Linked DNA regions of Homo sapiens: region 2 is linked to region 1. The links come from fine-mapping of genetic effects on gene expression. Tissue or cell type: whole blood. Region 1 holds a variant in brackets; the other region holds the start of a gene. All regions are shown on one strand. Distances are from middle to middle.

Region 1 (2,761 bases):
CCTCAGTGACTGAAGGAGGCATGGCACGTGACCCAGTCAGAGCACCGAGGTGAGGTGCAACCCAAGGTGGACAGGACTATTAAGAGAGAGACATGCGCTCTTTTTTACCCCTCTACTCTCCCTGAACCTGGAAGAAAATGGGTTTGGGATTGCAGCTTGCCATTTGCCATCACAGGAACCTGGGAGAGTAAAGCCACACGAAGGACAGTGAAGCTGAGAACTGGCAAGATATTGTGTCCTTATGACACTTTTTGGAGGCCCAGGATCCAGCTGTGTGTCTGAATTTTCAGGTTATGTTAGCCAATAGATCCCATTTTTCTTAGATTTAAGTTTTCTTTCACTTGTAATCAATAGTCCTAACTGATAATTAAAATGGAGAACCATACATTTCAGTCTTGAAGAGACTTATCTCATTCTACAGGCAGAGACGGACACTGAGATCCAGGGAAGTAGCTTTCCCAGGTCCTCTGCTAGCTGGTAGTGTAGCCAGGACTAGCACCCAGGTCTCCTGCTTTCTCATGTGATGTTTTCACTGCACCATGGAGAAAATTAAAAAATAATTATGAAACACATTGGACTGATTTAAAACTTTTAATTAAAACTCTGCTCTAATTAAAAGCTTATTGGGTATTATACTCAAAAAATTCATAATTAATATTTTAAATCATTCTTTACATTGTTACCTAGAATATAAGCAACTTAAAAATACATTAATAAATTAAATTTTTCAGAAATGTGCTTGTGGTCTGCTGTAGCAGCAATAGAAATAGCCCAACAAAATAGCTTAAAATGTTTTATTAAGTATATATAATATTACAGGGTAATATTTACAAAGTTATGTTTTTTTTTAAATAAAAAAGTACCTTGGCAAAGATTGCAGATATTCAAAGCTTTAAACAGTGATAAATTGATTTAATACATATAAAAAAAAAAACCTTTAACGGTAACACAGCTGTAAAACAACTTTGGTCTTCAAATCACTGCAAAAAAATGGCTACTGACAAATAGCACACCTTTAATTGCTATGCAAAAAAGCTCCAAGAGAGGATCTTGCACATAGCAACACTGGAGTTCTCTTTATTTAGAATGGTTAATAGATATTTATACGATGTGGGATCTAATTCTCAACAATGGCTTTTTGTAAATAATGCTCCATTTAATAAAAACAAAATGTTTTCTTCTCTCACCAGTCATGATAACAACACTTTTAAGATTTAAGATGTTGTCTTACAGAGGAGCTTAGTACAAATGCTTTCTTTTTTTCAAAAAGAGAAATTTATGAGAAAGCTGGTCTTCAATGATCTTAATTAAGAACTGTCAAAGCTAAAGGCAGAAAAACTGCCTGGTCACTC[A/C]CTGCTCATCTCTTCAAAGTTACCTGGATTATCCCTATTAGTCACTGAAAATGACCTAACAAAGGACCCCAGCAGGTGATGGCAGTTAGTAATTTTAAAATATGACACAAGTAAAACTGTTTATAAAAAAATCCCTCAACCAAATAAAATACAATAAAAAATAAACGGTTGCCCGACAATCATTTCTCCAGTTTCCAACAACAGGTAAATTAAGGAGTATGTGTTTCCATACATACACCACAGATCCCCATTTTTGAATACCCATTTTAAGACAAGAGAAACCTAGAAGGTTGATTACAGCTTAATTTTTATTACTGAGATGGAGGAGTAAACTTATCGTGTTTTGAGCTTTGTTAGTGCAAATAACAATTTGGTGGTCACTTACTAAATTGACTATAGCATCCTGAAAAAAGAAATATTTCCAATTACGGGATAGCCCTGTTATTTTAATTCTGACATTCTTAGGGATTTAAACAGAATGGACCTGGAGTTTCCAGGAGAAAAATAATCACCTTTGAAGGTTTTTAGAGCATGTGAAATTAGTCAAAAAAAAAAAAAAAAAAAAAAAAAAAAAAAACAAAAAAAAAAAACAGAAAGAAAGAAAACTCTCAAGCTCACCCTATTAAAAAGTGATAAATCTAAATACAGCCAACTCTCAATCATTTAACTTATGTACCTAGCTTCTGATGTATGCAAAACACTGCAGGAAGAGAGAATGAAAGAAAGAAAAGCTCTAGCTATAGAAGGAATTTTAAAATCAAGGAGAAGAGCAAGGCCAAAAAACTAATAGAACTAAGCAGAGATGCATAAAGTACTATAGGAATGGTAAGTTAAGAGACAAAAGAGCAGCTACACAGATGAAGAGGAACTGCAAAGGAGAATGTTTTGAAGGAGAAGACAAATAGAATTTGGCAAAAGTAGCTGGAAAGGTTGTTGCAGAAAAGGACAAATGGTGTCACTGTGAGAACACACAATAAATAAAACTGAATGGAAGAGTCAACAGCAGAAACTGGGATCAGGGAGTAAAAAGCATATTATGGGACAAAACAGATACATGATGTGCAAAACACTGTCTGCAATTTAAATGTGATGTGATGGAATTTGGGAGCCATTACAAATCTGATTTAAAGAGAAGGAACTGGCCCAATGATGCCCAAGCAGGAGGACTCCTGCTTCTGTGGTCACTTATCCAGAGAAGCTGACAACTAGTGAGAGCAAGAGTTGGTTTCATCTGGCATTTCCCCCACTATCTCTGGTGGCATTGTCTAGGGCAGTGAATGCCTCAAAAGGCAGGCAGCATTAAAGAGAACACAATGGATGGATGAGATCCAAGAGCGAACCCCAAATAAATGAGAGTTTACTACATATTAAAAGGTACAACTTTAGTTTATAAAAAATTTTACTATAAA
Region 2 (2,500 bases), 47 kb after region 1:
TCTTGGAAATACCTAAAGTCACAAGCCTTTAGGAACGGCACACCGAGGCTAATAATCAGTTTAAAATCGAATTAATTTAGCATTCTAGAATAAATGTAACAATTGCTGTCACTGGTGCTCAAGCTGAATTCTGAATCTTATAAAAGTTCACAAAAGGCTCTATGGATGTGAAGTGTGACAGGCACTCACTGTAGAGCTACGAATGTTTCTATTCCTTGCTCAGTTTTTACAGACGAAGCACACGTTTTACAAAAGCGAAATGGATTCCAAAAGCTCGGGGTGGGGGTGGGGGGGTGGAGGTTCTTTGGCGTCGAAAAACACCAAATCCCATTCTGCTGCACATGTTTTGACTGGAGGTTACTGTCTTCCTATTTCAGGCGAAAACCAGATTACTTTTAAAACGGTTCCCCCAAATAAAGTGGGAAAAACTTCAACGTACAATTTAGAATGTATGCAAGTGGCTGATGGGGCGTGAGGGTCACGAGAAAGGAAGAGTTTCCAGCAAGCTTATTTTTAGGATTAAAAACGACAGCAAAAATTACACGGCCGGAAGATTCTTCTGATTGAATGCTGAGTTGAAAATGAAACTTAATTGTGTCCTTTACGTCCTCTTCGCTCCTATGTTCATGTGGGAGGCAAACGGCAGAAACCCCTTCTCACCGACTTCGCCAAAATGCGCACTTCCATCGCAAGAGGCCCGGGCCCTCCCACTCTCCCTCCCTCAACCCCAAATGCGTCTAAGCACTGAGAAGGGAGAGGGGTGCGAAAGAAGGGGATCCCTAGCAGCTGCAGCCCCTTGCCTCTGATCGCGCCCTTTCTTGCTAGTTAATTTTTGCGCGAGGTGCGCGGTTTGGAGTCTTCCTGTGTGTGTGCATTTGGAGATGGAGAACCGGGTGGAGGAGATGAGCCCCGCTCTCACCCAGGGGGAAGAAGACGACCAGGGAAAGGAAGGGAGGAAGAAGGGGGGCGCCCGATTCCCCGTGGGGCCCTCCCACGTCTGCACTTCGGGCGCTCAGGGCCCGAGTGTTCTGCGCCCCGGCCACCCTCTTCAGGGCGCCGCCGGGCTGGCTGGGGCGCAGCCCACACGCCCGCGGGGGCGAAGCGACAGCAGCCGCAGGGCTGGGAGCGAGGAGCCACTCACCGCAGCACGCCGAGCCCAGCAACAGCGCCGCTACCAGGGGCCACATCTCCGCGCCCGCCGCGGGGTCGCCGCCGCCGCCGCAGGTGTCCGGAGCAGCAGCCGCCGCCGCCGTTACAGGCAGGACCGACCGCCGCCGCGCGTCACAGGCAGGACCCACTGCCCAGGCTGCACGGCCGCGCGCACGCGCGCTCCCACTGCTTCCCGCCCGCTCCCCCGCCTGCTCCCCGCCCGCGAGAGCCGCGCACGCGCACTCGGCCCCGCCCCGCAACCGCTGCTGTTGACGCGGCGCCCTCCCCAGTCGCAGGCTCCAGACCCGGGGCCCGCCTGCCCGCTCCACGGAGGCCGGATGCCTGCTCCAGGGCGGTGGCACGCGCCGCGCTTCCAGGTCACGTCCTGTCGCACCCGCCCGCCCCTGGGGTCCGCGTGCTCGCCCGCCGCAGGAGGCTGAACCCTGTGTTCCCACGCTCGCCGGGGACCTCATTGCACCCGTTCCTGTCCGCGGGTCGGTTCCTGCCTTTCGCGCGGCGCTGGGCCCCACTGTCCTCTCTCTCTACTTTTCTCCTCTTTGCTTTCACTCCCACCCTCGCGCTTCAGGGGCCGGGTCCCGTCCCGCCCCAGCCCGCGTCTCTCCCTGGACCCGACGTCCGGCTGCGCGCGTGGACCAGGACACCTAGGCTTTCACCAGCGCCCGTTTCCTCCGGACGCGGCCGTCTAGCGCCGAAGCGGTCCCTGAGCCCGAGGCCGCCACGCCCAGGGCAGGGCGGTGGTCGGGTACCTGCCCGCAGGGAGCTTCCACTCGCCCCTCGCGGGCTCTGCGTTCGGCTCGTCTACTCGCTCTGCTCTTCCCTATGCGGTTCTCTTCCCTCTTTCTCACTTGGTTCTTTAGTGTTTTCATCCTCTGATCAGGGTTAATCAAACAAGTTCCATTCACGGTGGTAAACATTGTTACCTGTGAACACCGCCACCACCGGGACTAGCGAGCATTGTCGCAAACAGGCATTAGCAGCGTATCCAACACATCCCCACCAGCAAGGTTATTGAGCTTGGTTTGTGACTGCCCCATGTGCAGCCCTCTGCGCTGCGCTTGGGTTTAACATGCTTGAAAAATGGGTTCGAAATGTGGCCGCAAGCCACAATAGGGACAAGGCTTTTGAATTTATCGCTGAATCACACAGGCCACATCATTCATCCTGAAGCAAAAGTCTTTTAAAGATACTTTTAACCGTTATCCTAACTGATGTACTCTCTTATCAAAAAGTCAGGCTCTGGTGGCTGCTCTAATGGAGTGCACATCCTGTCCACCTCCTTGATTGTTTTCCTCCTACCTCCTGGGAAAGAAAGCAATTTCCCACCACAATA

Evidence for each region. PIP is the estimated chance that this variant, and not a neighbour inherited with it, causes the effect.
Region 2: CD47 starts here. The variant in region 1 is fine-mapped to the expression of CD47 in whole blood (TOPMed, PIP above 0.99).

What each region holds. Positions count from the first base shown.
Region 1 is chr3:108,042,519-108,045,279 of GRCh38, forward strand. CD47 (CD47 molecule) reads right to left here. Exons shown (of 11, transcript NM_001777.4): 11 at 573-2,761. Among named protein-coding and RNA genes, the nearest start is that of CD47, 47 kb to the right of the region's middle. The variant A/C (reference allele first, on the strand shown) is at 1,353.
Region 2 is chr3:108,089,722-108,092,221 of GRCh38, forward strand. CD47 (CD47 molecule) reads right to left here and starts at 1,310. Exons shown (of 11, transcript NM_001777.4): 1 at 1,142-1,310. The coding sequence starts at 1,187. RefSeq lists silencers at 1,034-1,783, 1,804-1,853, 1,864-1,923.